Homo sapiens: one gene and its partner. The protein of the gene in region 2 purifies or fractionates together with the protein of the main gene of each other region. This does not show direct contact. Each region holds a gene or a part of one and is shown on either strand. Other genes may lie near its edges.

What was found.
Region 1: the proteins of ARHGAP4 (region 2) and CAMSAP3 purify together in Homo sapiens (affinity purification with mass spectrometry, with the first as the bait; one large-scale study listed by BioGRID). This does not show direct contact.

Annotation. Positions count from the first base shown.
Region 1 is NC_000019.10:7,602,261-7,606,061, forward strand, and holds part of CAMSAP3 (calmodulin-regulated spectrin-associated protein 3), read left to right. Parts: intron 1-2,965; coding exon 2,966-3,219; intron 3,220-3,801. UniProt on the Homo sapiens protein: Key microtubule-organizing protein that specifically binds the minus-end of non-centrosomal microtubules and regulates their dynamics and organization.
Region 2 is NC_000023.11:153,923,359-153,927,765, forward strand, and holds the start of ARHGAP4 (rho GTPase-activating protein 4), read right to left. Parts: upstream 2,907-4,407; 5' UTR 2,845-2,906; coding exon 2,778-2,844; intron 1-2,777. UniProt on the Homo sapiens protein: Inhibitory effect on stress fiber organization. May down-regulate Rho-like GTPase in hematopoietic cells.

The DNA of each region.
Region 1 (3,801 bases), on a different chromosome or scaffold from region 2:
GGACAGCATCCCCTGAATACAAAGAATTTTCCAGCCCCAAGTACCAATGAACCAAGGTGGAAGAACATCGGTGTATAATAAGTGTCTGATAAATGTCAGTGTAGCCCTAGCTTAAGGTTTTGGTGTTTTTTGTTTCTTGTTTTTCATCTTAAAGGCCCTGAAAAGTCCTGTAGGAAAGAAACACGTGTGATTTTGCTGGTGGGAGCAAGACGTGCCCAAGGCCGGGGCTGGGGAGGTAGAGAGGAGGGTTTGGATTTGGGAGATATCAGGAAGTTGAAAGCCAAGGACGCATTAAATGTGGGGTGAGGGCGTAAAGAAAGGGAGGGAGGGTGATTTCTCACTGCCTTGGGGGCAGGGAGGAGGGGAGGTGTGGGTGAGATGTTGAGAATTGTGGGAGATGCCCAGGGTGCAGTGGGGCCCGTGGCAGCCGCTGTTGCAGTCTTCAGGTGGCCCTGGAAGCCGTCACGGGGTAGGGTGGCCTGGGGTGGGGGTGGGGCATGTCCATTTACAAGGAGACGCCTGTGGGAGGAAGGTTTCTGGAAGAAGGAGGCACTGGGCACAGAGCCCAGGCGAGATACGGGCCCACAGATATGCTTTGGAGGTCCCTGCTGGCCTTGGGGAGACCGGAAGCCATGAGGGCAGCATCGAGCTCAGGGAAATTGAGGGAGAGGTGGAGGGGGGCTGGGAGGGCAGGGAGGAAGTGAGCCTGAAATACCTCTTCTTTCAAGGAGCCAAGATGAGAGGGGCAAAAAGAAGGTCCAAGTCTACATGCGGGTGGCGCGTTAAGTGGGACGGTCCAGTGTGGTTTTAGAAGGTGGGAAAGGAGCCAGGACAGGGAGGGACAGAAGGCAGCCAAGAGTGCCTGGGTCCTCACAGGTGGAGAAGTCCCGTTCAAATATGTTCTGAAGCACTAGAACCCCTTACCCTGTTCTTTCTTTTCTTTTTTTTTCTTTCTTTCTTTTTTTTTTTTTTAAGACAGAGGCTTGCTCTATCACCCAGGCTGGAGTGCAGTGGCGCAATCTCAGCTGGCTGCAACCTCTGCCTCCCAGATTTAAGCGATTCTCCGGCCTCGGCTTCCCGAGTAGCTGGGATTATAGGCGTGTGCCACCATGCCCAGCTCATTTTTGTATTTTTAGTAGAGATGGGGTTTCACCATGTTGACAAGGCTGGTCTTGAACTCCTGACCTTAAAAGATCTGCCTACCTTGTTTTCCCAAAGTGCTGGGATTACAGGCATGAGTCACTGCACCCGGCCCCCACCCCGTTCTTTCAAACACACACACAGAACCCCAATATACAAAACAAGTCTGGGCACAGTGGCTTACCCCTATAATCCCAGCACTTTGGGAAGCCAAGGCAGGTGGATCACTTGAGGCCAGGAAATTCGAAACCAGCCTGAGCAACATGGTGAGGCTTCCATCTTTATAAAAAAATTTAAAAATTGGCTGGGTGTGGTGGCACGTGCCTGCGGTCCCAGCTACTCAGGAGGCTGAGGCAGGGAGGATCCCTTGAGCCCAGAGTTCAGGTTGCAGTGAGCCATGATCGTGCCACTGCACTCCAGCAAAAACTCAAACAAACAGAGAAGGCTGTGCAGGCTGGGCGTGGTGGCTCACGCCTGTAATCCCAGCACTTTGGGAGGCCAAGGTGAGCAGATCGCTTGAGGTCAGGAGTTCAAGACCAGCCTGGCCAAAATGGTGATAACCCTGTTTCTACAACATACAAAAATTAGCCGGGTATGGCAGCATCGCACCTGTAATCCCAGCTACTTGGGAGTCTGAGGCAGGAGAATCATTCGAGCCCGGGAGGCAGAGGTTGCAGTGAGCCAAGATTGCACCACTGCCCTCCAGCCTGGGCGACAGAGAGACTCTTATCTCCAAAAAACCGCAAAAGCTGTGCAGATTAGAACAAGAGCTGGACAGATTCCCTGCTGTTGATTTCAGTCACCTCTTCCCCGACCCCTGCCAAGCCTTCCTGGCCTTCTCCTCTCCACTCTTGGTCCTACGTGGATTTCTGCCCCCAGCCCACTGTCCACCTGGGGCTTCCTCACGCCTCTTCCCATTGTCCTATTTAGGGACCTCAGGCTGTCTCTATGATGTGACCTCACCATCTCTCTAAGCCCCAGCCTTTCACATAATCTGCCTCAAGGATGTCCTCAAAGCCCCTCACATTCAATTTCACCCCTTCACCTCCCATTCCTCCTGCACCCAAGCTCAGTCATTACCCCTCTCTTCCCTCTTCCCCCTCAGACCCAGCAAGGTCCTGGCTACCTCCCTCTCTGTCCCTTGCCTCCTCCCTTCAATCACCAGGTTTACATCACTCAACTCCCTCGATGTGCCTGTGGTGTGCCCACCTCCCCTGCTCGCCTGTGTGCCCCCCACTCATCCCCCCCTGCCTGCAAGCTAAGAGAGGGCGTCCAGTTTGCTGGGTCTAACCCCAGTCCTGGTGTTGAAGAGTTATTTGGCCTGGGGCAAGGGACTTTCCTTCTCTGTGCCTCAGTTTCCTCCTCTGTAACATGGGGGTTGCCAATTGGGCCCTGGCTGCCTCCTAGCGTTGATGTAAGGCTCAGTGAGTCTACATTGGCAAGAGCAGGAAGGCTCTTAGGATTGCCGATGTTATTGTCTTTCCTGGGACCTACAAGAGCCAGTCCAGCTGGCCTGGTATTGGGGGTAGCCTCCCCTCCTTTCCACTCTAAGTGCCCATCAGCTCCCTGAGGCACCGTGTTCTCTCCCACCTGCTGGGCTTTGCATCTGCAGGCCCCTCTGCCTACAACGCCATCACCCCTTCCTCCAGCAAACTCCTGCACATCTGCACTCTCAGCCCAGATCCCCTTTCTCCTTTCCCAATGCCATCCTCCCTGGTCCAGACACACTCTTAATCCGGGCCATGTGGTGTGTGTGTGTGTGTGTGTGTGTGTGTGTTGTATCTGGTGACCCTGACCCCCGTGTTTCCCCTCTATGCCCCCACAGAGCACGTGCCCCCGGAGCTGTGGGAGCCCTTCTATACCGACCAGTACGCGCAGGAGCATGTGAAGCCCCCGGTGACACGGCTGCTGCTCTCAGCCGAGCTCTACTGCAGAGCCTGGCGCCAGGCACTGCCACAGCTTGAAACACCCCCCAACCCCTCTGCACTGCTGGCCCTGCTGGCGCGGAGGGGCACAGTGCCTGCTTTGCCCGAGCGCCCGGTGCGCGAGGCCGACCTGAGGCACCAGCCCATTCTCATGGTAGGCCCCGCCACTGCCTGTTAGACCACGCCTACCATGCTCAGCTCCTCCCCTCAAGCTCCTCCCGCCAGTCCTGGCTCCTCCCAAGTTCCCTCTATCAGTCTTGGCTCCTTTCAAGCTTTGTCGATTAAGCCTAGCTCCTCCCATCAGGCTTGGCTCCTCCCCCAGGTTCCTCCCACCAGGCCTGGCTCCTCCCCTCAAGCGCTATTAAGCCTAGTTCCTCCCACGAGGTCTGGCTCCTCCCCTCAAGCGCTATCCATTAAGCCTAGCTCCTATCAGTCTTGGCTCCTTCCCTTAAGCTATGTCCATCAAACCTAGCTCCTCCTATCATCAGTCTTGGCTCTGTCCCTTAAGCTCTGTCCATCAAACCTAGCTCCTCCCACCAGTCCAGGCTCCTCCCCTCAAGCTCTGTTCATTAAGCCTAGCTCTTCCCCCCAGCCCTGGCTCCTCCCCTCAAGCTCTTCCCATCAAGCCTGGCCCCTCCCATCAAACCCAGCTCCCCAAAAAGGCGCTACTCTGGCCCTTGAGGATTTGTGTACACAGCCCACCCTATCCTAACGCCTAGCATCTGACCTCAAAGTC
Region 2 (4,407 bases):
CCCAGCATCCCTACCTCCTCCCCTGATCTCCTATTGGAGAATGTCCCCTTCCTAGTCTCAGCCCCCTTGACTCCAGGTGCCCCAGCCCTGGCTGCATGCGTCACCCATCCCTCTGTCCCTCCACTCCCTGCCCCCACCAGACTAGCCAGGTGAGGGACCCAGGAGCCTGACCCTTCCAATTGAATTACTGAACAGGAGAGCTCTTCCCACCGGCAGATCAAGCTGGGTAAGTGGAAGCCTGGGGCACGGGACCTCCCGACAGAGCAGGGCAGAGCCCACGATGCCAAGTGAGACAGATGGAGAGTGTCTTCATCCTATCCGAGGCTGGCCTCCTGTGGTTAACTCGTCAGCTCCAAGGCCAGGTGGGGTGGGCGCTAATGCCATTTGAAATCAGGAGAGTCCTCACTGAATCAGTTTAACGTTTTGTTTTGATTTTTTGTTTTGAGACGGAGGATGTTGCCCAGGCTGGAGTACAGTGGTGCGATCTCGGCTCACTGCAACCTCCGCCTCCCGGGTTCAAGCGATTCTCCCGCCTCAGCCTCCCGAGTAGCTGGGACTACAGGGGCGCACCACCACACCCAGCTAATTTTTGTATTTTTAGTAGAGACAGGGTTTCATCATGTTGGCCAGACTGGGTCTTGAACTCCTGACCTCAGGTGATCCGCCCGCCTCGGCCTCCCAAAGTGCTGGGATTACAGACGTGAGCCACCACGCCTGGCCCAGTTTAACATTTTTTGATAAAAGTAAATTTCATTTCATTCCAAGAAAGGTGTTAGACAACTGCTCGCCTCACTGGCCCTCTGGAGCCTGCCCTGCCCTGCTTCCCCCAGAGGAATACAATCCCTGGGGACTTATGACAACTGAACAGTGCAGAAGGAACCAGCAGAGGGAACCGCTGCCTTTCTTCATCACTGCCGGCAGCAAAAGCTGACTGGAAGCCATGTCCTAGTCCAGATCCGGGCATGCACACCGGCTGGTGTTGAGCAGGCAACTTGTGAATTGCAAGTCGATTGCATTGGTGGCTTTCCTGGCAGAGCTTTCGGATCTCAGTTCAGACAAACTCGTCAGCACACCCTGTCCTGACCTCCCCCTAAACTAGGGCTGGCCCTCTTCCGACCCCTTCTTGGCACCGTGCACTTTCCTTCCCTTTGTAGTGCTTATTATCATAATGCAAAGTCTATGTCTCCCCCACTAGACCCGTGAGCCATGTGAGGGCGGGGTGGCCACTGACGCCATTTGAAATCAGGGGAGTCCTCATTGAATCATTGCTTTTACTCTGGGTAAAAAGCCAGGGCTGGAGGGGCTGGAGTCGGGGTTCTCTCTGGTACAGCAGTATACTCCCAGGGCCTGGGACAGCACAGATGTATAGGAAACATCTGGCAAAAGGAGAGCTGGAATCCATGTCTGCCTGAATTACAGAGCTGGGCCCCGGGCCCCACCAGCACTTCCTGTGAGCAAGGCATTTGGTCTCACTTCTGCTGACAAGCAAAACAGAAGAAAAGATGGTCTCCAAAACCACCGCTATGCTGACCTTTGAGAATTTAGGGTGTCAAGACAGTGACCCCACTTTGTAGAATGGTAGGAAGCTTTTCCAGGGTGTGGGATGCAGACCCAGAGCAAGTGAGGAACCCTTAGACAGTCGTGCTCGAAACCCCAACTTTTCAGTGTGAAATCACTGACCCATATTTGCTGACTGAAGTTTTCCAAGTCTTTCAGCTTCATGGCATTTTGGGGAAGCAGGATGGAGATCATTACCTCCATCTGAGCAAGATGATGGCGAGGCTTGGAAAGCTGGCTCACCCTGTGTAGTCACCTCAAGCTGGCTCTGGACACAGGCTGCCTTTTCCAAAGGAGGACTGGAGCATACTTTGGTATAAATTGCTTGCACTGAATAATGATGTTAGAACCTACATCTCTGGGTTCAAAGGCACTTCAAGGGTCATTGCATTCTACGTCCTAGAAGTTGCAGTGCTGTATGACCACGGGCAAGTCACTGCACCTCTCTGAGCTTGTTTCCGTAATTGGTAAAATGGAGTGATTGAGAGTGATATGGACGAGCTGCTGGCACTGAGCTGCTGCCTCTTTCCTTTGCAAGAGTTACCATGCCCTGAATAAGATGGGCACAAGCTATTGGCTAAGAATTTGCAAAGCTGATTTGCATGTGATTTGCACATGGGTGTTTATCAGAACCCAGAGGTTCAATTTCAGAAGGCTGAGAAGCCAGCCCTGTTAAATCTCTCAACCAAGACTCACTGCGCCAGCTTGACCCAGAGACAGTGGCCCTCGCCTCTGCTCCCCCTCAGTGCTAAAGGGAGGCAAAAGGTGCTGAAGCTCCAGGGACTGCAGTGGGGTTACGGCCAGGTGATCTCCACCAATCCACTCACCCGGACTCCCTTACTCACCCCCCAGCCCAATCAAGCTGGTTGACTTCACTGTAGCTAAAATACTGCCTTCTGAGGGGCACGTTGGTGCATCTGGCTCTCTTTTACCAGCGGCCACCAGTGTCTCCACTGAACCTTGGGTGAGAAGCGGTAGACCCAAGGAGGACAGAGACCAAAGGAAGGAAGACAGGAAAGAAGGAAGGGAAAATGGCAGGCGGTTGAGGCCAAATGGGCGTCGGGAGGCAGGCAAGGGGCTCAGGCTCCCTCCTCCACCCCCGCTCCAGAGGTCGCTGGGGAGAGCATCGGGCCCTGGGCCAGCGCGGGGACGCTTGGAGCTCCCTCACGACCTTGGGTTCTCCGCAGGAAACGGGCCGGGAGCGCCCGGCGCCCTCTCACCTTTGACTTGCGTCTCATACTCAGCCTGCAGCCCCCGCTCCCGCCGCAGCTTCCCGTGAGCGGCCATGGCGGCCTCGCGGCCGCGCCGTCGAACCCCACTGCTCCCACGCGGCCGTGAGCGGGCCCGGCGCCGGGACTTGGGGGCGCTGCGGCCAGCACCCTGCGCGGGCTCCGCCCAGCCCCGCCCCCAGCGCGGCTCCCGGTGGGGCGGGGCGGCCCAGGGCTGGCACTGCCCGCGAGGGGCTCCTGGGGGGGCAGGGCGCCCCTTCCAGCCCCACTGTGCCCCGGCCTTGCCGTCCCCTCCCATTGGGCCTGCACCTAGGCTGCCTTGTGCCCAAAGCCCCGCTGCCAAGCAGCCGGAGCAGGTGTGAGAGCCCCAACGTAAGCTGGCATCCCAGGCTGCCATCCCACCACCTCCAGAAGGCTGTCCCTGGTCACCACTGCCAGACTGTACCATTCACAGCGGGGCCGCTGGCCCACTGTACCAGTGGCCATGAACACCATTGCTGCCCCAGGCTCTGGACTCCCCCTGGGTTGCCTCCTTCCCCCAGACATCCGATGGGGTCCTCCCTTCCCAAGTCAGCCCCCAGAGAGGCCCAGGGAGCCCCAGGGAGCCTTGAGAGCTGGGGTGGGAAGTTCAGAGGGGAGGGGGAAGGAAGGTCAGCACCAGAGAGCAGAACCTCAGCAGCTGGCTGCCGTTCCCTCCAGGCCCCCTTGGTAGGGGAGGAGAGTTCAGCTCCGGTTCCCCTTCTGCTCAGCCCCACAATTTCCCCATAGGCGGTTACCACTTCCTGCTGCCGGAAGAGACTGCTCTGCCTCCCTTCCCCTGCAGCTGCACCTGCCCGTCATAGGCCTGAGGGGGGCAGCCCCCTCGGAGTGAGGTCTTAGCTACCCTGGGGGCAAGTCTTGGGGCCCCCCTCATCCAGGGGTGGTGGGGCTTTCCTCCACCCTCTACCACAGGGCAGCAGCTTTTCTCCGGGAAATCGGGAAGGCGGGAGGCGGGAGGCGGTTGACAAGCCAAGCAGACAACTGGCTTCAATTTGGTGGGAGGGAAATCCCTGGGGTATAGATGTGGGGAGAGAGGCAAGGCACTTGGGCACCAGGCGTGTGTTCCGAAGGCGGGCGTGGGGGCACTAGTGCAGGGGTACTAGGCGTGTGTGTGCACGGATGTCAGAGTCAGGCTCTGTGCAAATGCGGGCACACATGACCTTGACCTGCAGATCTGGGGAGGGGAGGCTGTGCGGGTACTTCCTGCCTTTCAACTGTGAGCAATTAATTCTCTTGCCCAGAAGGAAAAAAACACTCCCTCAGCTCCCCGCCCCCTTCTCCCAGTACCAAGGCCCTTCTCGAACACGTCGTCGTGTGTGTCTGCAGGACCTGGGGCTTCAAGGCCTGGGAGCTAGCCAGACCCAGGACCTGGACTTCCAGCAGCTGGTCTCGGAAGTACCGATGTTCGAGTCCTCCAGCGAGACTAGAGAGCCTGCGCCCCTGCCCACAGCGCGTACAGCCGCACCCACACTCCAACCTGCTCCTGGTCGGGAGACTCACACGTCCCACCGCTGCCTCAGGCCAAGGGGAACCAGGGAGCCCCGCCTCTCACTAGCTGGCCCCAACACATCTTGCCCCTCCA